Homo sapiens: one gene and its partners. The protein of the gene in region 5 interacts with the protein of the main gene of each other region in a biochemical or structural test. Each region holds a gene or a part of one and is shown on either strand. Other genes may lie near its edges.

The links.
Region 1: the proteins of PDZK1 (region 5) and GHRHR interact in a test that uses a peptide from one of them, tested with the Homo sapiens proteins (one large-scale study listed by IntAct).
Region 2: the proteins of PDZK1 (region 5) and SORCS3 interact in a test that uses a peptide from one of them, tested with the Homo sapiens proteins (one large-scale study listed by IntAct).
Region 3: the proteins of PDZK1 (region 5) and TNRC6B interact in a test that uses a peptide from one of them, tested with the Homo sapiens proteins (one large-scale study listed by IntAct).
Region 4: the proteins of PDZK1 (region 5) and MTNR1A interact in a test that uses a peptide from one of them, tested with the Homo sapiens proteins (one large-scale study listed by IntAct).
Region 6: the proteins of PDZK1 (region 5) and BPIFA2 interact in a test that uses a peptide from one of them, tested with the Homo sapiens proteins (one large-scale study listed by IntAct).
Region 7: the proteins of PDZK1 (region 5) and ADRA1D interact in a test that uses a peptide from one of them, tested with the Homo sapiens proteins (one large-scale study listed by IntAct).

Annotation. Positions count from the first base shown.
Region 1 is NC_000007.14:30,970,453-30,973,952, reverse strand, and holds part of GHRHR (growth hormone-releasing hormone receptor precursor), read right to left. Parts: intron 2,835-3,500; coding exon 2,737-2,834; intron 1,991-2,736; coding exon 1,858-1,990; intron 1-1,857.
Region 2 is NC_000010.11:104,647,790-104,651,289, reverse strand, and holds part of SORCS3 (VPS10 domain-containing receptor SorCS3 precursor), read right to left. Parts: intron 1-3,500. UniProt on the Homo sapiens protein: Plays an important role in modulating synaptic transmission and plasticity in the hippocampus, probably by affecting the trafficking and localization ofAMPA-type glutamate receptors in the postsynaptic density.
Region 3 is NC_000022.11:40,184,425-40,187,924, reverse strand, and holds part of TNRC6B (trinucleotide repeat-containing gene 6B protein), read right to left. Parts: intron 1-3,500.
Region 4 is NC_000004.12:186,533,155-186,535,861, forward strand, and holds the end of MTNR1A (melatonin receptor type 1A), read right to left. Parts: intron 1,404-2,707; coding exon 535-1,403; 3' UTR 501-534; downstream 1-500.
Region 5 is NC_000001.11:145,679,869-145,683,368, reverse strand, and holds part of PDZK1 (Na(+)/H(+) exchange regulatory cofactor NHE-RF3), read left to right. Parts: intron 1-732; coding exon 733-869; intron 870-2,261; coding exon 2,262-2,457; intron 2,458-3,500. UniProt on the Homo sapiens protein: A scaffold protein that connects plasma membrane proteins and regulatory components, regulating their surface expression in epithelial cells apical domains.
Region 6 is NC_000020.11:33,178,159-33,181,912, reverse strand, and holds the end of BPIFA2 (BPI fold-containing family A member 2 precursor), read right to left. Parts: coding exon 3,685-3,754; intron 2,310-3,684; coding exon 2,246-2,309; intron 1,394-2,245; coding exon 1,353-1,393; 3' UTR 1,316-1,352; intron 690-1,315; 3' UTR 501-689; downstream 1-500. UniProt on the Homo sapiens protein: Has strong antibacterial activity against P.aeruginosa.
Region 7 is NC_000020.11:4,239,288-4,242,787, forward strand, and holds part of ADRA1D (alpha-1D adrenergic receptor), read right to left. Parts: intron 1-3,500. UniProt on the Homo sapiens protein: This alpha-adrenergic receptor mediates its effect through the influx of extracellular calcium.

The DNA of each region.
Region 1 (3,500 bases), on a different chromosome or scaffold from region 5:
GGACACCCACTGGAGCCCCATCCCAGTCTCCTCTACCCTACTCAGATACAGAACCTCCAGGCCCCTCCATGTTAGGCTGGGACCTGCAGCTCCTTGGGCCACCCAAGAGGGGATGTGGTGATATACAGTGAGGGTTAAGAGCACAGATTTGGTATCTAGACAGCCTGGCTTCTAATTTACTATCTATTTCCTGTGCAAATCTCCTCACACCTTAGCTTTTCATCTGTAAAAGGAAAAACCTCCAATACCTAGATCAAGTCCTCATCATAAGGATTAAATGGAAACTGCCTAAGACTTGCTTCTATTTTCACTTACCCCCATCCTTCCTGAGCTGAAGTCAATCCCTAGAGCTGTGACTTATTCAGCCACAGCTCTGTCTTGCAAAAAACACACACAGGCACCCGTGCATTCACTCACTCACTGCATGACTTGATCACCTGCCGGCAGGGGAGCAGGACCACCTCTGAGTTCAGTTGGCCCAGGTTTGATCCCAGCCCCACCCGTGTGCCACTGGGTGACCTTGCCAACTGTCTCTCCTCTACAAAATGGGATTAAAGTGATGCTTTCTTCTTCAAGCTGTTTTAAAAATTCAAGAGATAATGCCAGCTGACTCTTGAACAACAAAGGTGTGAACTGCTGAAGTCCATTTACACATAGATTTTCTTCCATCTCTGTCACCCCTAAGACAGCAAGATCAACTTCTCTTCCTCCTCCCCCTCAGGCTACTCAACATAAAGACGATGAGGATGAAGACCTTCATGATGATCCACTTCCATTTAAAAACAGCCAATTTTTATTTTCTCTATGATTTTCTTAAAATTTTTTCTCTAGCTTACTTTATTGTAAGAATACAGTATATAACACGTGTAACAGACAAATATGTGTTAATCGGTCATTTATGTTATTGGTAAGGCTTCAGGTCAACAGTAGGCAATCAATAGTTAAGTTTGGGGGACACAAAAGTTATACTTGAATTCTCAGCTGAAAGGGGGGTCAACACCACTAAACCCACATTGTTCAAGGGACAACTACATATGTAAAGCACTTAGTGCAATGCCTGGCACAAAATAAGTGCTCAGTATGAAGTATGATTAATTCTTTCATCAGTTAATTGAGGTCATGTGTTAGTTTGCTCCCTGATTTCGCTGTTCATTTCCAGCACACTTGCAGAGGATCTAGCAGGTGCTGGGTCTCCACATTCTGCCCAACTTCCCTTTAATTTCAATTGCCTCTTATTGTCTCCACCCCATCTCTCCCATGGTGCCTTCCCAGTTTCTTGGACATGGCCCAGGTCCTCCTGTCTTTGAGAGTTTGTTCACCCTGGTCTCTCCTCTTGAAATGTTCTCCTTCCCCATCTCCCTATTGTTGCTGCCAATACAGCTCCAGGGTCCTCTCCTCCCTGAAGCCCCCTCTCGTTCTCTCCTAGCTCTCAGCTTCCTCCACTTGGGAGTCCCCTAATCTGTGTGCATTCTGTCCCATGGGCTCTTCCTGAAGGAGGGACCCAGCTCCTCCCAGCCCCTTGCGTACACACCCCCAGCACAGACCTATGAGTGCTCAGGGAGGGGTGAAAGGAAAGGAAAAGGCTGTGCATAGTGAAACGTGGTCTAGGTTGGACTACAGAACGCGGAGTAGAGCATGCAATATGGGAAATGACATGGATCGACACCACAGTCCAGGAAAGGCGTGAGGACTTAGGGGGTGACATGGGAAAGGAGCATTTTCCTGTTCTGTAATTGGCCATGCGGGAGCCCCAGGGTCAGCCCACAGGGCAGGGAAGCCTGACGCAGGCACATCTGGGTCTGTAATCCTACCTCCTCTCTCCCCCACCTGCCCAGCCCCTTCACCCATGGCCATTACAGTGGAGAAGCTGCAGTGGTCAGTGTCGTCGCTGTGGAAAAGGGCAGCATCCTTCAGGAACACAGCTCCCGCCTTGAGGATAAAAGTGGTGAACAGCTGGGTGTGGACGTAGTTCCGGGGGCAGTGGAGCCTCCTGGGGGTAATGGGAGAAATGAGGAACAAGAAGCAAGCAGGGAGAGGGGATTCTGGTGTGCTGCAACTGGGCTGAACAGGGCAGGAGGTGAATCGAATCAAACTGGATGCAATCAAACTGAATTGAATTGAGCTGAACTTGAGGCTTCAGTTTAACCCTTGCAGGACAGCTGAGCAACCATTCCTGTGCTCAGGGTAAGTGTGGAAAGAGAGGAATATCTGGTCCCTGCCTCGAGGGTGCTCACAGTCTCAGGGAACAGAGGCAGAAACGGCAGGTACTGCCCATGGGAGCCCCCTGGATGATCAGAGACACTCATCCCCATGAGACCAAGAACAGCACAGGCCAGATGCAGTGCTCAGACTTCGAAGGCTGGAGGAGGGGGTGGGGTCTTAAAGGGGACAGTGGTCAGAGAGTTATAACAGTCAAGAGGGGCTCTGGGCAGGAGGCAGAGGACTGTCAGATGCAGATAGGAGCTGGGCTTTCTCAGTTATAAATACACTGAGAACAATGAGGAATTCCAAGCAAATAGAATGAGCACCACGTGAGCAAAGGGGCAGAGGTAGGAATGAGTTCTGGTGTTTGAAGAGATGGGTCTACATGGTGGGGAAAAGGGAAGGGAAAGTTAGACATGGGTATGGCGCCTAGATCTGGGAAGTTCATGGCTATGTAGGCAAGGAAGCAGACTTGACCCTCTGGGAAATAAGGAGCCAAGGAAGGTTCTTGAGCTGGTGATGAGGATGACAAACCTGAGAGCAACCAGGATGGTGATGGCCACGAAGAGGGCTACAATAGAGATGCTATGGCCCACGGTGTAGATAATCTTCACTGTGGAGAAGTAAGATTCCTGGGAAGGGCAGAGACAGAAGAAAGTCTCAGCTTCTGGGCCTTTGGAGGAAAGAGAGGCTTGACAATCAAGCAGGTGAAGCCTTTGCCATTCCACCCCAACACTCCCCATCTGGAGGCAGAGGTGTCCGCGAGTACCATGGAAAGCTCCCCCTGTGCACTGGAGCTTTAGTTTACAGCCTGCCTTCCACCTGACCTGCGGGTGAGGGAGGGGTAGTGGCGAGGAGTGGAGATGCTTAACATTCATGATGCTCTGAGGGTGAGGAGAGGCAGCCGCAGAAACTACATGTCCCTGGGGAATGACAAAAGCCCAAGAGGAAATCAGCTTGTTTATTGACATCCAGCTTGCTCACCAGCTTGGGAACACAATGTATCCAAATAAAGGAGATAGCCAGGGACACCTGGGGACAGCCACAGGCAGGCAGGCAAAAGGTTTCCGTGGCCAAGTGTTTGGATCAGTCAGAGTCCAGCCTGGCCCTGAAGATAGAGGGTGCAGGCAAGGGAAGGGAGCAGGGGCCTGGGCACTGGCCCCAATCCCAGCTCTCCTGTGGGGTCCAGGCAATCACTTCCTGTCCCTGACTCAGTCTTTCCATCTGAAAAATGGTTACAGTCATGCTTTACCTCTCAGAGATCAAGGGGACAGAGAAATGGGATGATGGGTTTGGGA
Region 2 (3,500 bases), on a different chromosome or scaffold from region 5:
GCTGTGGCTTAGGGACCTTCTCATGACAGAAAAGACGCTTTAGAGTTTTGAGAAATCTTTCAAACAAAAGTTTGCTTTCAAGCATGAATAACACTGAAAGCAACACAGTGAGATAAGCAACTCTTTCACCACTAAGGATACCCTCCTCTTCCACCACCACTCTGGAAAACAAGTTTATCTGTGTCACCAGCTTCATTGTCTCAGAACTCTTATTGTAGACAAGTTCCCCCACTATGTGTAATCACATTCAGATATGGCAGCTTGAGCTATTTTTCTAGTCTTGAAAATGTTCAACTCAGTCATTGTTCTTCATCTCCCACTGAGAACAGATTTTTAAAAGAAAAAGTTTATTTCTTATGCAGCAGTGTAATCTGTAACCTGATTCTAACCATCTGAATGAGAAACTGCCTACCTCACCATAGATGTCAAAAAGGCTTCTGGGAGGATGTCAGGCACGTGGGACCTGAGAGCCTGTGAGAGACAGCCGCAATGTCCCAGAGTGCAGATCCCAGGCCAGCAACAGCAGGCCAGACACTACTCCATCCCCAAGACACTTGTTCTTTACCCAGGCACTTTTAAGTATTTAAGCAAGTATTTATTCTGTTCAACTCAATAAGCACCTATTGACTTAACCACCAGATACAAGAGAGCAAGGAAGCAAAAAGGAAGGAAATACAGAAGCAATGGGAGAACCTAGCCTAAGCATCACTTCCAGCTGAATCTATTTGTAGAGTGTTAGTTTGGTCATTAATGGTCTGAGTATCTAACTGCTGAATGAACGTGTTTGTATCTATTCCCCTTTTTTCTGTAGGAAGAGGCTGAATGATCAGCCCCCCCCAGGATTGAAAACTGTCCTGCTGCCAAATGATTATTCATCTATGGATCATCATACAACCCCTACACAATTCACTTACAGTCTACTTTTCATCTTCCCTCCTTCGGAACAATTCCTGGTACAGCATTGTCTTGTTATTTCATCCTATTTATTTTCACTTCTTTCCCAGGGCAACACTCCCTCTAGTGTCTATGTAGGGCTCTCAGGTTCCACTCTTGGTACACAGGGTGAAGGCAAAAAGGGAACTCAAGCCTACAACTCTATGGGTATAGATCACCACAAAGTAGTGGATTGTACCAGTGTGATAATTCTGGGGAACAGGCTGCAGATATTCTACAGATAGCTCCAATCCATGTGATATGCCCATTTCACAACAGGCACAAATACAGAAGAGGAAAGGAAAAATGTAACATTGAGGTCTAGCCCATGACTTTGGCATACATGAGTCTTTGGCACAATGGGATCTGCTTGTCAACCAGCCCCAGCAACCCAGTGTTCTCCAATGTTCTAGTAGCTACACACTTTACTCACTTCCCTCAAGAAGTCTCCCTTGATTAGCTGTGAGTTGTATCATGGATGCCAATTCTGAGAGAAGCTACTCTTCATCTTTCTGGATCCCTTAACTCTCCATGCAATAAAAGCCCCGAAATAATGTTAAATTTATTCATAGCTTATTAGTGTAATCATCTAATGAATATTATTCTGTTTCTACTACAAATTCTGAGTATGAATTTCAAGAATACAGGTCCCCAGTCATTCACTTCTAGATCCTTTTCAATGTCTACTTTAGCACGACATAAAAGATAGACATGGCAAAGACTCATTGACTGGGGACATGAACTATGGGAGGTGGTTGAAATGAGCATCTTGATGAGAACTGGGTTCTAGCCAAGGCCTTGCCATCAGCTCACTGGGAAACCTTGAGCAAGTGCCTCCTTCCTCTGCTTCAACATTTCCATCTGAAAATTAAGGGAAGGCCCCTTCCAGATATAAAAATAACAACTAAACTAAAGTATCTTGAGTGCTTGCTACAAATGGGTCAGGCACTTCTTTTAAGCACTCTGCCCTGTACAGTCTCACTTAATTCTTACAACAGCCCAAGGTAGAGATACTATATCATCACTCCCTTTTTTCAGATGAAGAAACAGCAGAGAGGGTAACAACTTGCCCAATGTCACACAGCTATTAAGAAACAGAGGCAGGACTTGAACCCAGGCACCTGGCTGCAAAATCCATTGATCTTATTTAGTATGTGGCCTGTTTCAGGTTCCCAGTCTATCTGTTCTCAACAAATCCAGAAGAGGATTGCATTCATGATGAAATCTCTCCACAAATATGAATTCACACAAGTTGTACCATATACCCATACTAAATAATCCCACAACCCAATATAATCCTTGATTATCCTACATAGCTTTATTTCCAGTTTTTCCCCTAAAGAAGGTTTTTTCTCTTTCCAGTGCATGCCAAGTAACAGTCCCCTACTTAGCCAAGGGCACAGTTTTACTGACCAAGAACCCTGCTGGCCCCACTCTGCTGCAGGTCCCTCTCATCTCAACCAAGCAGGGATGGCTTCCTCTGATTCCCTGCATGCACTCAATAGCAGAAAACAATCTGTGCAATCCTGAGGTTCTTAGACTCCATTATTTTTTCCAAATTTACTATAGAACATTTATTAGTGTACTATAAACAACAGTATTTCTATAAATAATTAAATCCAAACTACACTGATCAAAATAAATGAGCAAAATATTCCTGGTTGTGATGTAACCAGGCTTGATTCACTCACTAACTCAAATTACAAAGTGACTCACAAGAGGCCCCCATTAACAATGGTTAGTAAGATACAGCTTGTCCAACATTAACTAGCTTGTTATTCATTGTCTGCAGCCACCGCGGTGGGTGGGCAGGTTGACTATAGAGTATGGCCCCAGAACAGAAGGAAAGAATCTATTCCTAAATCTCTCTAACTAGCCTCATACGATACCCATCCTGGGGCCTCAATCTATCCTACCTATAAAATGGGCACCTCATCAGAGTGAAAACACACAAATCCTCTTAGAAGGAAAATGCTCTGTTAACCTGAGAAGAAAGGAGAAAAATGGGTGTGAAGAGGGGATGGCTCTTCCAAGAGAAAAAAAAATAAGCAGGGTCCAAGGCAGGCTGCCATGTTTCTGTCTGAGCCTCATATCCTCATCTCTATCATGAGTGATTTGATGAAGACAATTCCCAAGTGCACTTCCAGTCTTGACATTCTGCAAGTCTCAAATTCCTGTAGTATGTCCCACAGGGATCCTCTCTTCTGCGAGCTCATAGCCTGAAACGATCACTTGACAATTAACCACATATCACCCCATGGCATCTGTCTTGTTGTCATGTGTTATTTAACTTTACAGAAGAGCAGTCTCACATCCAAAGCATGTCGGCAGGACCATGAGGCAAATGCTGTCTTATCCTTCTTTGTCTCCTCTCTATCACACTTCTACCAACCCCACAGTTTCTAGGACAATGCCACATACACAGGAAACACTCAGAAAATGGATGAATGTCTTATGGGGGTGTCCATCTGATCTCTGAAGTCCATGAGAAGCCAGGATTGTTAACTAGTCCTTATTTCTATCCTCTTACTAAGTAGTGTAGAGACCCCTCTGAATCTTATGTTAAC
Region 3 (3,500 bases), on a different chromosome or scaffold from region 5:
TTTCTATCTTTACTGGTTATCACTTAGATGGTCTAGTTAACAGCTGCAAAGCAGTCTCAATCAATGAGATAATTAAATGAAAATCTTTGAACCTGCTTTTTATAAACTGAAAAAACCCACCCATATTTAGTAAATATGCGTTCAATTGGCCCAGGTCGGCAAAAAGTACACAATGACTAAACGGGGCTAAACGGAGAAAAGTGAGATAAGAAAAGTGAGAGACAAGCACAACATAATTAGCCTGGTGGCACCCTCTCCCACCTCACACCTCCACCACACAGGGACGCTGGGACACTGACTTAAAGCAATCCTAACTTCATCCCCCCACCTGAAGCCACCACCTCACTGACTCCAGGGAGTGCAAAAGAAACTCACAAACAGTAACAGGAACGCTCCCACCCCTCCTGCTGGATCTGTTTTTAAGTGTAAGCCTCTGCACCAAGCATTTCAGAAACATGGCACAAACCGGTATGTTTAGGAACTTCTACCAATGTACCATTCTGCTGACTGTAGCCCAAACACTATTTCAAATTTTGGAATCTGTGTATTTTCATAAAAAGTTTGTCTCCTCACATTCAAAATTAGAGATTTGACCCTTCTAAATTCTAAAAATTCCACTAGGATAAGCCAACATGTATTCTAAGAAACACTAATCCTGTGAAATGCTTTGCGATGGTGCTAAACCATTTTGGGTATTTTCAGAGTGCACATCCGCTGTACAGTAGCCTATTTTACTTCGCATAACCCTCCCTGTGCTGTCCAACAGAGTAGCCGCACGTGGCTACTGTGCACTTGCAATGAGACTAGTGCCACTCAAACTGAATTTTTAACTGTATTTTAATTAATTTAAATTTAAAAACTGACATTTCCATTGCTGGAAAACTTTTTTATGTTTGGAAAAACGTGGGTATGTGAACCTACTTTTCCATGAAAAAGTAGTAAGTTTTATGAAATCTAAAAGCAAATCAAGTATTTCCAATGAAAATTTTATGTTTGAACTGAAATGTGTTGTAAGCCTAAGATACACACCAGGTTTCAAAGTCTTGGTACAAAAAAAACGTAAAATGTTGCGTTAACATTTTAAAATCAATAATATGTTGAATTAACAATATTTTACATAAATAAAGTCGATATTACTGAAATTAATTTCACTTATTTCTTTTTATTTTTAACTTTTTTTTTTTTTTGAGATGGAGTCTTGTTCTGTCACCCAGGCTGGAGTTCAGTGGCGTGATCTCGGCTCACTGCAACCTCAGCCTCCCAGGTTCAAGCAATTCTCCTGCATCAGCCTCCCAAGTAGTTGGGATTACAGGCATCCGCCACCACGCCCGGCTAATTTTTGTATTTTTAGTAGAGACGGGGTTTCACCATGTTGGCCAGGATGGTCTCGATCTCCTGACCTTGTGATCCGCTCACCTCGGCCTCCCAAAGTGCTGGGATTACAGGTGTGAGCCACCGTGCCTGGACTGTTTACTTTTTTAATGTGACTCCTGGAAAATTTAAAATAACACACGTGGCTTGCATTCTGTTCCTACTGGGCGGTGCTGGCGCCATCGAATGATTCCCATACCAACACTGGAACACCTCCCAACACCAGGTTCGGGAATGTTGCCATAACCAAATACTTTTCTTCCTGTGCAGCATTTGAACTGCTGCCCACACCTGTGATCGAACAGTTCTTCCCTCATCTTCTGTGATGAGGAATGACTGTCCTTCAGAGCCACCGTTCTTTTTATCCTTTCCCAGGTCCTCTTTCTCTTCCCGTCCCCAAGGTCTCATTCTCAGTTCTTTTTTCTATTCTTTACAGTCCCATGGTGACCTCATCCTCTCCCTTACCTTCGACTATCACTTCCACGTGGAAGCCTTCCAAGTCTTTATCTCCACTTCTGACCTCTTTCTCAAGCTGCAGATCCACACTGCCAGCTGCCTGCTAACCAGTTCCATTGCCAAGTCCCACCAAATTCTCCAATTCAGTAAGTCTGACCTGGAATGCGTCATCTTCCTTTTGGTTGAAGATTCCCATCATTCACCTTAAAAACCTGGTCCCTAGTTGCATGGCCATAGCCTTATAGCAGGACCTTTCATAACAGTCCTTTTATCCCCTAATTGGCCTGCCTGTCTCTCAATTCTTCCTTTAATCAGTGCCCCCCCACCAAGTCCTCCTCTGCACCACTGCCATATCAAAATTCTCACTGCACTGCCATCAAATTTTCAACAGGTCCCCACCGTCTACCATAGCAATACAAACTACTCAGCAGGCACTCAGCTCCTGTACACGTGTGCAACCTCCCCTCAATCCTCCCTGGACACACCTAGTCCTCCTCCACCTTACTCTAGCTAATACAGCCTGCCATGAGTCTACTCACCACCATTCTGCCCAATCTGTAGGGTTCCACTCAAATACAAAGTCCTCAACAAAGCTTTCTCTGATCAACACAGTTAAAATCAGTGTCTCTCCTCCCTCAAACTCCTTTGGTACTTCTAATAATCATTATGGTAATGAGAGTATATGGCCTTATCTTTATAAAATAGTACAGTATTCCCTTAATAGCACTGAACAGCACCTTGCACTGCATAGTACAGGTATGCCATCTTTGGACACCTTACCAAAGAAATCAACTTAAAAAGGAAAATCTTGCCAGGTGTGGTGGCTCACACCTGTAATCCCAGCACTTTGGGAGGCCGAGGTGGGTGGATCACAAGGTAAAGAGAACAAGACCATTTTGGCCAACATGGTGAAACCTCGTCTCTACTAAAAATACAAAAATTAGCTGGCCGTGGTGGCACATGCCTGTAATCCCAGCTACTCGGGAGGCTGAGACAGGAGAATCGCTTGAACCCGGGAGGCAGAGGTTTCAGTGAGCCAAGATTGTGCCACTGCACTCCAGCCTGGCGAGCAAGACTCCGTCTCAAAAAGAACAAAAAAAAATTTGGTAAATTTGGAACTACTGGTAACTCTTAAGTCTTTATCTCCAGACCGGACCTGTAATTACTCCAGCCTTTCACCTGGATATCTCAGGATTCAATGATTCCAAAACTGAACTCATAATCTCAACCCCACACCTGTGCCTCATCTAAATGCACCCTAACTCAACGAATGGTGGCACCATTCCCACAAGAAGCCAGGCAGAGACACAGGTGTTATTTTACATTTCTCCAACCCCATCTTCTCATACCCAATGACCAACTCCTCCAAAATCTTCCTAAATGCCTCTGGAACTCATTCATTTGTCCCCAACTCTGTTGTCAGTTCAGGCCACTATGACCTGAGATTACTACAGTATCATCTGGTCTGACGTGCAATGTCCCAGCCAGTTTCCACAACACACCAGAATCGTCTTTCAAAAATCCAATCTGAACAAGTGACTTTCCCACTTAAAACCCTTCAACTGTTCTCAGGAAAAAGACTTTCAAACGTGGCTTATACACTCTTCTGCATCTGGTCAAGGCTTAGTTTTTCAGCTTACCTCTCATTTCTCAGATTATTTCTTCCCTTAAGC
Region 4 (2,707 bases), on a different chromosome or scaffold from region 5:
TAACTCTGCCAGCTGAAAGGTTTGTGGTGTTGGTTGTGGTTGTGATTGTTGATGAGCCATTAACTGATTTATGTTCAGCCTTTCCCTCTGTAATAAGAGGCACTCACCCCACTTTCATTGTTTGTTCCATTTACAGAAAAAAAATTGTTCCATTTGCTCATTTATAAATAAAATTCTCTTTCATTTTTCTGCTAGAAGTCTTCAAAAAGTGAAGAAGAATGCAATTACCCCTTTTGTGGCACTCATTTACAATAAAAGTTTGCACACTCCTTCCCCTGAATGCATTCAGCAGCTTACTCTCACCCCAGCCCTGAACCGCATTCCTCAGTTAACATGTAACTCTCCATACATTCTGTACTTCTCTTGACTAGTAGAATTGGAGGGGTTTATAATGCTGACAGCACGTTAGCTCAGAAACTATGGCAGCAGCCAGGTAAAAGTTGGAAGTTTCCTCCACCACTCTGCTTTCCCAGACATCTGTCAAGAGCGAGGCCTTGCGCAGCGTGTCCATCTCACCCGGAACGTGGTGCTTTTTTAAACGGAGTCCACCTTTACTACATTATTGTTGGTCATCAGTGGAGACGGTTTCCATTTAACCCTATCGGCCACGTCGTTAGAGCTGTCCACAAAGAACACCCTGGCTGTACAGAGCGAGACTATAATTCTCCTGTATTCCTTCCTGAAATTTTGGTTCAGTAGCCCGTATATAATGGCATTGAGGCAGCTGTTGAAATACGCCATGTAGTAACTGGCCACAAACAGCCACTCTGGGATCCTAGGCACCATGCTGGCGGGGTCAGAGGCCACGGCCAGGCCAATGAAGTTCAGAGGAGCCCAGCAAATGGCAAAAAGGACAAAAACCACAAACATGGTGACAAAATTCCTGAAGTCCTGTGGTTTCAGTTTGGGTTTGCGGTCAGGTTTCACCCTCTGTCTGACCTGGAGAACCAGGATCCATATTCTCAGGTAACAGAAGATGACTATGATCATGGGGACGAGGAAGTGGAAAACCACCACGGCGATGGTGTAGGCGGAGCTGACGGACTGGGCGAAGGTGCACGAGTAGATCCTCGGGTCGTACTGGAGAGTCCCTGCACGGAGGTTGGGCAGGACGGCCGCCAGCGTCAGGAGCCATATGAGGAGCACGTAGCAGAGGGAGTTCTTGCTGCTGTACAGTTTGTCGTACTTGAGACTGTGGCAGATGTAGCAGTAGCGGTTGATGGCGATGCCGGTGATGTTGAATATGGAGCCGATGACGCTCAGGCCCATCAGGAACCCACTGACTTGGCAGTGCAGATAGCCCAGGTTCCACCCGTTGTTAAATATCGACATCAGCACCAACGGGTACGGATAAATGGCCACCACCAGGTCTGCCACCGCTAAGCTCACCACAAAGATGTTTCCTGAAAGAGAATCGTTTAGAAAATACAGTGAATACCAGTTCACAGTGGGTTTTCTGTTACAATTGTTAAAGAAGGAGCTGCTTCTGCAGCTCCGATGACCTGACGTCACAGCGGCGGCCGCACTGCAAATGAAGTGGAGGCCGTTTCCCAGGAGGGCCAGTCCACTGCCGCTCCTGACACATCGAATCCGCTGTTCACACATTCCCACCTCCCCAGAACAGGGCCTGTTCCATGTTCAAAACTGCTGTCTTTCAAACCGTTCGGCTTCTCATCTCTTAAAAAGTCCTGAGATCAGAATGCTTGCACACCATCTGTTGTTCTGGAGCCTTCTACATCACCTGAGAAATCTCATATGATGTCAAGCCAGCCACAACTTCCTTAAGTTCAAGTCTTCATTCCCTCTGTAGTGCTTCAGCAGCTCTCAGGGGGCCTCTAGCTTCTGTTCTTGCTGATCCCATAGAGAGGGAGTTAAGGGCAAGAGGGATCTGTCGTCAGCCGTCTGGATGAGAACATGGCTTCACTCCTTACTAACTGTCCAACCGGGGCAAGTTACTTGATCTCCCCAAGCACCTGCCTCCTCCCCTGGATGATGGGATAATGAGCAGCTTCCTCTTAGGGCTGTGGTGAGCACGAGATGAGACTATCTGTGGTGAGCGCCATGTACCGTGTCTTACACCATAGAAATGTTCTTATTCTACGACTCCCTCACCTTGAACCAAAGGAAAATGCAGAAATTCTCTTAGATCTTATAAAGAACTTACGTTACAAAACTTAAACCCTAAATAGTCTGTTAATTTTCTCAATTAATATAACAACACATATTTAATTACAGAAAAAAAAAACTCTAGTCACTTTTTTATTTTTATTTTTTTGAGACAGAGTCTTGTTCTGTCACCCAGTCTGGAGTGCAATGGTCCGACCTTGGCTCACTGCAACCTCCGCCTGCAGGGCTCAAGCAATCCTCCTACCTCAGCCTCCCAAGCAGCAGGGACCACAGGTGCACACCACCACACCCGGCTCGTTTTTGTATTTTTGTAGAGACGGGGTTTTGCCATTTTGTCTAGGCTGCTCTCAAACTCCTGGGCTCCAGCCATCCACTTGCCTCGGCCTCCCAAAGTGCTGGGATGGCAGGTGTGAGCCATTGCTCCCAGCTACATTAGTCAAATATTATGAGATGTTCTGCAAATATGTTTTTTTTCTTTTGCGGCTCTTCTGCCTCTGTTTCTTACTATTCCTTCTGCCTCGAATGGCTCCTCACATCAACTTTCTAAATCCTGCCCATTCTCCCAAGTCTATCTCAAATA
Region 5 (3,500 bases):
ATAATGCAGTGTGGGCATGTTTTAGCGCTTTCTGGTTCAAGGGGCCAAGGCCACCCAAGATTCCATCTTTGCATTTAGCTGACCTCAGAAATTCTATTCAAATCAACAAATACCCACTGAGTAAAGGCTGTGTCAAGTTCAGTGCCAGGACCTATAACTGTGATTTTAGATCAGAAGCCAAAGGCCGAGTTAGCTCTAAAATCGGAAGTTTGTTTCACATTATTGGGAGAAAAGTCTTTACCATTGGATTTCGAGTTTTTCTTTGCAATGGAGTGTTCTGTGAAAGGGTGGTGTATGCAAAGCAGTCCCTCAAAGGCCAAAGGAGCTGAGAAACCAAAGGACAAGGCAGGCAAATCCAGTTTGTTGGTACATTGGAATTTATCAGGGGAACTTACGAACAGAAGCATGGTCTTGGACAGCCACAAAACATGTAGATCTCTGTGTTACTCCCCAGACCCAAGGCTGATATACCATAGGGAAAGGGTATATGTGCTCCAGCAAGACAATCGAAGGCAGCCCTCCGCAATAGCCAAGAATGCTATAGTGCATCATAGCCTATAATTTGCGTGATAACATTAAGGTTGACATGTTCTTAGACTAGGGACAGTAAATGAAGTAGAAATCGGGAGGCAATCACAGGACTGGGGCTAATCAGAAGTCAACATCACAGATTACCATCCAAGAGGGAGTCACTTGTGTCTCCACATGGAGTTTACCCCTACTCTCTTCCAGGTAAAAAGGGGGTGTACATGACTGATATTACACCTCAAGGTGTGGCTATGAGAGCTGGAGTTCTGGCTGATGATCACTTGATTGAAGTGAATGGAGAGAATGTAGAGGATGCCAGCCATGAGGAAGTGGTTGAAAAGGTATGCCCCAAAGGGTACTTTTCTTACCCTATCTTCCACTCTATTCTCATTGGAGGTGACAGGAAGACAGGGGTGGTAGGGGACAGCATGAGTTTATGATGGAAAAAATATCCAGTTGAGTTGCCCCTTCATATTAAGGGTGAACAGACTCACACTAGTGGTATAAGCAGTGTTAATATAGGGTTTTGGAATAAAGCCTTCCCTAGTTTCACATGAGGTCTACAAAATTATTAACTTTACCTTTTGGATCTTGTTTGTATCTGATTGGGAGCCCCCTCTGAACTGTTTGATTGAGACAGGGTCTCACTCTGTTACCCAGGCTGGAGTGTAGTGGCACAATCTCGGCTCATTGCAGTCTCGGCCTCCTGGGCTCAGATGATTCTTCTACCTCAGCTTCCTGAGTAGCTGGGACTACAGGTGTGCACCACCGCACCTGGCTAATTTTTATGTGTGTGTGTGTGTGTGTGTGTGTGTGTGTGTGTGTGTGTGTTTTGTAGAGATAGGGTCTCACTATGTTGGCCAGGCTGGTCTTGAACTCCTGAGCTCAAGTGATCTGCCCGCCTTGGCCTCCCAAAGTGCTGGGATTATGGGCGTGTGCCACTGCGCCCTCTGAATTTACAATAAGTTCACTGTTGAGCCGTTAATACTGAAATGCTTTAATAGGAAGTGGGAGATAACCGAGATTTTCCTTTGAGGTCATATGGAACCTTAAAAATTGACCAACCTTCTCTTTGTAGAATGATTTTTTGACGTGGACCCTTACTTTCTTTTCTTTTCCAAACTCCCTTTCTAGCTTTTATCTAGGTACCTTTATGGGTTTTCTGAATTCCAGCTCCTACTTGGGCTCAGTTAGCACCTATGTGGGTAGGTCATACTTAAATAAGGGAAAACAACTATAGAAGTGGAGATAGGGGCCGGGCGCGGTGGCTCACGCCTGTAATCCCAGCACTTTGGGAGGCCGAGGCGGGTGGATCACGAGGTCAGGAGATCGAGACCATCCTGGCTAACAAGGTGAAACACCGTCTCCACTAAAAATAAAAAAAAAAAAATTTAGCCAGGTGCGGTGGCGGGCACCTGTAGTCCCAGGTACTCGGGAGGCTGAGGCAGGAGAATGGCGTGAACCCGGGAGGCAGAGCTTGCAGTGAGCTGAGATAGTGCCACTGCACTCCAGCCTGGGCGAAAGAGTGACACTCCATCTCAAAAAAAAAAAAAAAGGCGATAAATACATATCAGTTAGCTGGTAGGGCATAGTGTAACAGCTTAAACTCAGGCCTTTCATCCCCTATCTTTTGTTGAACCTAGAGACTGTGTGCCTTTATACAGAAACTTTCTTATTCCCCAGCATTGTTCTTGGGGGTTGATGTCATTCCTCATCTGTGTGTGTTGTTACAGGTGAAGAAGTCAGGAAGCCGTGTCATGTTCCTGCTGGTGGACAAAGAAACTGACAAGCGTCATGTTGAGCAGAAGATACAATTCAAAAGAGAAACAGCCAGTTTGAAACTGTTACCCCACCAGCCCCGAATTGTGGAGATGAAGAAAGGAAGCAATGGCTATGGTTTCTATCTGAGGGCAGGCTCAGAACAGAAAGGTAAGGTACAAGAGCAGGAAACTTGGCAGTAACCAGCAAATTCCTCATCCCATTCTGACTCCAGAGTTCCATTAGGTTCCCAACTCCCAGCCAGATGCATGAGCGGCATAGCATAGAAGGCACAGCTGGGTCAGCGTCTATGTCACATGAGGGTCTGATGTTGGGCATCAAAAGTTTCCATAGCATTATGATAAGGCAGAATTTGGGATCTGGGCAACGGTATCCTGGTAAGTTAGCTCTCTGGGGCGGGGGTGGGGGGAAATCCAAATTGGTAGCGTTTGTTTTTGGTACCAAATTGGTAGTATTTTGTGATGTAAATACTCCTCCCATGTCCAGTTTCAACTTACTAACACGATGTCACTGAACACAATGAAGTGTTGCACAGAATTGGCTTTTGTGAGCCGGTGTGAGCCAGTATAGCACACCGCTGGACCTGAGGCCGAGGTGTGGGTGAGGATTTGGGACTCAGAACCAGGAGTCCTCCTTCCTTGCAACTCAATAGGAAGAACACTAGGTTCTTTCAGGGAAGGTAAATACATAAAAGAACATGAGTTCGGGCCGTATAAACTGCTATTCGCCCATAAGTTGTTATTTTCTTTTCACTCTCTGTTTACATTAATTTATCAAATATTAATTTGGTTTGTGTTTTGTAAAAACATCCTCAGTGCCTTGGAGAAAGAATATCATATGAAGCAGACAGGAATTCTTTAGTGAAGGAGTCTACCATTTAGTAGATAAGAGATATGTCCATAATGAAGGGAGATAGAGGTTAAGTACCTTCATACAGGGGCAGATCAAGCACTGTGATAATTCAACGTTAGAGTAAGCTTTTCTCACTAAAAAGGTACCAGAAGCCCTCATAGTAGGGGTGGCACTTGAGTTCAGGCTTTGTAACATGAATAGATTTGGGAAAGTAGACAGAGCTGGGATAAGGAAGATCATTCCAGGAAGGTGGGAATCATGTGAACACAGTCAGGAGACACTGGCACAGTTTAATTGGCACATGATGTGTAGTACAAGAATTCGTTGGAAAGGTAGGTTGG
Region 6 (3,754 bases), on a different chromosome or scaffold from region 5:
TCCAGTGGGACCCCTAGAGGGCAGCAGGGCTAACAGGGCAGGTGGAGATGGGGCCACAGGCCTCTGACCCTGCATCACTCTGTCTCATACTCCTGACTCCAGTCAGGCTAGGTGTCCCCTGATTCTCCAAGAATCCTCAGGGCCCCTGGAGAGGAATGGAGGAAAGTGCTGGGTGGGGCTGTCCCCAGAATGTGACTTTCCAGTTCCCATTGCCTGTCTGGCACAGAGTAGGTGTTCACTACATACCTGTTGAATGCATGAATGGATAGATCAGGGGTCTGCTATTGCCACAGATTGGCTGTGTGACTTGGGCTAGTTTGTTGCCCTCTCTGTCTCAGTGGCCCCCTTTATAGAACCAGGAGATGTGGCTGGATATTCCCACTGAGCCTTCTAGCTCTGGATCCAGGTCTCTCCCACCCTAGTTGCAGCCCCCAACCTCCCTCCCCAGTTCCCACCAACAAATCCCAAATGGAGGGAATGCAACAAGCCACACAGAAGGGTGCAGAAATGGGCCTTTATTGCCAGGGGCAGGACAACATGTGTAGAGGCTGCTGTTCTGACTGTGAGGAGAAGGGGTATCTGGGAAGGTCCTTCTGGTGGGACTCAGGCTTTCACGCTGGTTAGGTGGTGGCAGCAGCTTCCTGGAGGGAGATGCTATAAGGGGGTGGGGCAAGCCACTGGGAACCAATCTGGAATGAGACCAAGGGGGTTAGGACATTTGCTGCTAGGCTGCCCTTACACCCAGCTGTCAGTCATCCACTGGGCACTTGATGGGACCCAAGTTGACCTGGCTCCAGTGTCCCAGCTCTTTCCCACAATACCCCATGCGGTTTAAGTCCTGGGAAGAAGAAACTGGCACCTGTGGTTTGGGGTCTTTCATTAGCACCTGGCACTGACTCATCTTCATTCCCCTCACCCTCCTTCAGAACAATGGTAGATGTGAAAAGATTGATTGAGGCCACTACTGGAGCCAGGTTCAGGGCCCAATATGTGATCAGAATCATGGATATCCATTTGAGACCAAGGTTGGGGCTCATTCTGTGACCAAGACTAAGGCTCAGTCAATAACTGGCATCAAAGCTCAGTCTGTGACTAGGATCCAGGCTCAGTCTGGGGCCAGAATCAGAGTTCAGTGATTAAGGCTCAGTGTTCAGAGTGTGACCAGAATCAGGGCCTAGCCTGGGATGGGGGCCAGGGCTCAATCTATGACTGAGATGAAGGCACAGTCTTCTAACACAAAAATAAGGGAAGCCACGCTTGACTTTTACTTCACCATAGGCCCCTGTGCATTGGGGCACAGAGACTGGCTCCTCACCAGCATGCACCACAGTGGTCCTCCTCATTCGTCCTCTTCAGATGAGGGTTTGCAGCTGGGTTTTGTGCTGAGGATTATCTGAAGAAACAAAATCAATAGCAGGCCTTAGTCTCTGCCACTGGAATTGAATAGAGACCAGACTCCAAAAGATGCCGCTCTCCAGCCGGTAACCTGACAGTTGTGGGACCCCAGGGATGTTGCTCCACCTCTCTGAGCTTCAGTTTGTTCATCTGTAAAGTGGGTACAATGACAGTACCTTCCCCACAGGGTTGTTGCAAGGATCCAGTGAGATAGTGTGTACAGAGCACAAAGTGACTGCCTAAGGGACTGGACTTGTGGCTATTTCCTTTCTTCTTCTTCTTTTTTTTTTTCTTTTTTTGAGATTGCGGTCTCACTCTGTCACCCAGGCCGGAGTGCAGTGGCATGATGTCGGCTACCTGCGATGTCCGCCTCCTAGGCTCAAGCAATCCTCCCGCCTCAGCCTCCCGAGTAGCTGGGACTCCAGGTGGATGCCACCACGCCTGGCTAATTTTGTATTTTTTAGTAGAGATGGGGTTTCACCGTGTCACCCAGGCTGGTCTCAAACTCCTGAACTCAAGTGGTCTGCCCACCTCAGCCTCGCAAAGTGCTAGGATTACAAGTGTGAGCCACTGCGCCTGGCTGACTTGTGGCTATTTTCATAGAAGGGTCACCTCCAGGGTCTTGACAGCTTTACTTACTCCATTTCTCCCCAGCAACCCCAGCCATGCCTGTAGACCCAAAAGCCAAAGGGAGCCCCCGGGTGCCTGTGGAGGGGAAGCCATGGCTCCCAATTTGCTTAGGACAGTGGGTCCTTCTGCTTCTCCAGGGTCCCCTGACCAGAACTGCTTATGGGGTGGGCACAGAGCTCCATGCCTGCCTCAGAAGGTCCCCACTTCCCCATTGACTTACCGACGACCTGCTGAATGACATTCACATCCAGGGAGTGGATGAAGATGCGGATCAGTGGACATATCTGACAGCGGAGAAAGGAGGAAGAGGAGGGTCAGGAGTAGGAGGAAGAACAGATCATTCTTCTCAGCTGAGAACAAATTGCTTGCCACCCACAGATGAGCTCATTTCTAGGGATCTTAGAATCTTTGAACCTTAGGATTTTATTTTGTTTTATTGTATTTTTTTTTTTTTTTCTGAGACAGAATCTCACTGTCTTGCCCAGGCTGGAGTACAGTGGTACGATTTCTGCTCACTGCAACCTCCGCCTCCCAGATTCAAGTGATTCTCCTGCCTCAGCCTCTCAAGAAACTGGGTTCACAGGCACATGCCACCATGCCTGGCTAATTTTTGTATTTTCAGTAGAGACAGGGTTTCACCATGTTAGCCAGGCTGGTCTTGAACTCCTGACCTCAAGTGATCTGCCCACCTTGACCTTCAAAAGAGCTGGGATTACAGGCATAAGCCACCGCGCCTGGCCTGAACCTTAGGATTTTAGAACAATGGGATCCCAGCAGTCTTAAATCTGGAAACCCTAGGGTGTTAGAATCCTAACACCTTAGAACACTAGAATTCTAGGACCTCAAAAATCTACATTCTAGATTGTTAACATTCCCATGTTGAACTTTGGAACCCTGGAATTTTAAAGGGTCAAATGGTGCCCTGAGGCATTTGCCCTGAGGTTGTAGAGCGGAGTATCTCTTGCTCCTGTGTGTACACAGTTCCCCGCAGATTGCAATTCAGCAGGTCTGGGGTGTGGCCTGAGATTCCGCATTCCTATCAAGCACCCAGCTGAGGCTGAAGCTGGTGGAGGATCGCTTTTGGAATATAACTAAACTCCGGTTCAGTGGGTCACAGAGCCATCCGGAGGATTTTTCTTTTATAAACCCACATTCCTGGGTCTGCTTCCAGAATGACTGATTTAGAATCTCTGCAACTTTGGGCCTAGTAATCCTGCACATGGTACCTATGGTTTTGGATGATGCACAGATGGAAAAAAAATTAAAACTATTTTATAAGTCCATTGATTGTATGATATGTGATATTAATTTTCTATTTATGATAGGGATATAAAGTTTTATTTTTAAAAATAAATGCTTCTAAAGAAACATATTTAAGTAAAATTGTGTTGAAGATGTTAGCTACAAAAGCATATTGGTAGTGCGTGGATATGGTGAGAGGCTCAAGTTTGGGACCTGGCAATTTCAGCTAATGTCAGGCCTCTGCTCTACCCTGCTACCCACCAGGCTGATTAGTAGAGGAGGAAGCTCCAGCTGACCTCCTAAGGAGAAGCTTTCACCTCCGAAGGAAAAGTGCTCAGAGGATACAGCCAGGCCTGCAAATTCCCCCACCTGCCCCCACCAGGCCTGGATCTGGGCTCCAAGGAGTGGGAGACTCACCTCCTTCTGCAGCAGGGAGGATACAGTGCTTTTCAGCGTGTTGATCACGCTATTCACGAACTTGTTGATG
Region 7 (3,500 bases), on a different chromosome or scaffold from region 5:
CTCAGATGTTTGGGACAAACATATCAGCAGGAGCTGGGCAGAGGACAAGATCTTCAGGGGAGGGGAAGGAGGAATATATGTCCAAGGACAGAAGTCCCCATCAGTGTTGTGTTTTTCTTCTACTGAAAATAAAATGTACTTCCTAGATCTGTCCATTGAATCAGTGACCAACTCAGTATCAATGAACAGCTCAGTCATCTTCCATTGAAACAGACTAGGGCTCTTTAGGGAAATGGCTAATTCCAGGTCTAGGGCAGAAAAAATGCAAGCTGAGCCTGAAGCATCTTATCAGATCAGAAAGCAAAGAAGAGCTCAAGATGCTCCAGGTTCTGCCAAAGATCTCAGAAGCCAACTGGAAGGAGTACCCACTGGCCAAGCCCAAAACAATGATGTCTGTGATGTGTTGGAACAGCAAGGATGTCTAAAAATAATGACATTACCATGGTACTCAAACAGCCTCAGTGGTCACGTCTGGAAAGAATGCTAGAGAACTGACTCTTCCTCTGATAAATAAAGAGGAATATTGAACATCTTCCCTGCCTTTGCTGTACAGATTCTATTTAACCAAACAGCTAGTGGTGAAATCATTTTAGAATGCTAGTGAATAAATGAAGGAGGTATGATAGGATTAGAATATCCCCACTTCAAGCCCCAGTGATATAATGGGTCCAGGCCATGGTCAATGGCTGCCAAAACCAGCAGGTGAAAGGCCGATGGGTCACTTTGTAATGGACAGAGCAGGCTGACAGCACATGAATTCTGGTCAATCTTGACACCACAGAAAAGAAGAATTCTTTCCAGGCCAAATCTGCACCCAGGAAGTACAGGGAACAGAGGGACACATTAAATGGCACTGTGGAGATGCAAACTCCAAACTACAGGATACACCTGGGGACAATCTGGTGTCTTCACTAAATAAATGGAAAGAAAAAAAAGCAGTGGAGGCTTACCGAGTAAAGAAACCTAATAGGCAAATCGACCATATGCAACGTGTGCTCCTTCTGTGGATTCTGCTTCAAACAAACCAACCAAAAATTTACGAGGCAGCCAGCAACATTTCAACACTAAGTAGATATTTGATGATATTAAATGATTTTATGTGTTATAATGGATTGTGGGCTTTTTTTTTTTTTTTTTACAGTTATTATCTTCTAGAACTATATATTGAAGGATTTACAGATGAAGGGATACTGTATCTGGATGTTCTTCAAAATAATCTACAGTGGCCGGGTGCAGTGGTTCATGCCTGTAATCCCAGCACTTTGGGAGGCCGAGGTGGGTGGATCACCTGAGGTCAGGAGTTTGATATCAGCCTGACCAACATGGTGAAACCCCGTCTCTACTAAAAATACAAAAATTAGCTGGGCATGGTGGTGCACACCTATAATCCCAGCTTCTTGGGAGGTTGAGGCACGAGAATCACTTGAACCCGGGAGGTGGAGGTTGCGGTAAGCTGAGATTGCGCCACTGCACTCCAGACTGGGAGACAGAGAGACTCCATCTCAAAAAACAAACAAACAAAAATCCAAAAGAATCTACAGTGATGGGACAGTGGGTGAGGATGGAAAGAATCTAGGTTAGCTTTGGGGTGAAGCTGGGTCACAGGTACACAGGGGTTCATTATACTAACAGGGTTCTCTCTATCAATGTATGTGTTTGAAACTTTCCATGTTAAAAACATGAAAAAAACCCAACCCTAGCTCATTGCTTATTCATAGTAATTACTCAATAAATATTAACTGTCCTGTTAAAGATTTTTTTTTTAGGCCACAAAAATGGGGACTCACCCCCAACCCACAACAAGTAAAGAGAGTTGACTTTAAATAGAGGGCTGTTATGCTAAGCGAAATAAGCCAGTCACAGAAGGAGAAATACTGCATGATTCCACTTACATGGGGGTCTCTAAAATACTCAAATGCGTAGACTCAAAGAGTGGGATGGTGGTTTCCAGGGAGAAAGGGCGCTAGGAAATTGGGAATTGCTAATCAATGGGCATAAAGTTTCAGTTTGGCAAGATAGATGAGTTCTAGGGGTCTGATGTGCAACAGTATCACATGATATGTATCCATAGTTAATGATATGTAGTTAATGATATGATATTTACACTTAAAAGTGTGTTAAGAGGGTAGAGCTCATGCTATATGCTCTTGCCACAATAAAAGAAAATTAAAATAATAAATAAATGGAGGGCTGTGCTTTGCCACCCAGACCCTTGGTGTGGCAGGATGGGAATAGAACATGGGTTCTACCGTTTCCTTCTTCTGCACACATTTACTGAGCACCTATTATGTTCCAGGTGCCACAAAGCACAGGTAGGAGATGTAATGCCAGCCCTTTCTTCAGGCTTTTGGGCCGGGAGACAATGATGCCATTACTGAAGACCTAGCACAAAGCATCCCTTGCCTCTCCCCTTCATCCACAGACCCCTGCACAACCTCAGGCAGCCTGTGGAGATGAGTCCTTTAGCACCTGGCCGACTCTCAGACATATGCATAATCCACTCTCCGCACGGGGCCACCAAAGTATGCCTTCCAGCCTGGACACCAATTACTAAGCAGGGCTCACAGCCTCCCCCCTGCCTCCTCCTGCCTTCTCTCTCACTGTAACAAAGGCATAACATGTAGACAGTCAAATTTAGAAAGCGTGTGTATCTGAAGCACACAGCACAGCCTGATGGCTCTGCATATGCATGCACCAATGTCATCACTACCCAGGTCAAGGTATGGAACTGTCCCAGCCCTTCAGAAAGTTTTCTAGCATTCTCTTCCAGTTAGTACACTCACTGCACACACACAGATGGGTAACCGCTATCCTGGATTTTATCACCATTGATAAGTTTCCCCTGTTTTTGAACTTCATCTACACAGAATCAAAAGGTGTGTACACCTTGAGTTTCAGACCTGGCTTATTTTGCGCAGTATAACATCCATGAAATTCATCCATGTGTGCATCAGTAGTTTGCTATTTTTCCTTGTACCGTGGTCCAGTCTATGGATACATGGTTTATTTATCCATTCTCCTGCAGATGGCATCTGGCCTCATCTCTTGACCCCTCTTCTCATAGGCTACACGTTTTACGTCTCCCAAACCACAGAGCAACCCAGCAATACTGCTACTCCTGTGCCTACGTGTGTGTAGTTCCCTTTGCCCTCACACTTCATGATGCATATCTGAATATTGACAGTTACAGTGCATCGTGATAAAAGTACATGCAGAGTGTTTCAGAAGCACATGGGACATCTAAGTCTGGGGGTGGTCAGCGACACAGGCACTATCACAGAGCACAGACTCACAAGATAGGAGAGAGGCTCAGGTGTGGCTCACAGATGGCTGGAGTGGGACATTGGCTGGGCTGTCCTGGGACTTCTGATATCAGAGCCTCTGCCCAGCTTGTATGCCTTGAGGTGCATTTGAGGGGGGCCCTGGGCTCTGAGTCTCCGGGCTGCTTTGAGTGGATGGCATTTGGAAGGTGGAGGTCAGTGATGCTCGGTGATCTGCCC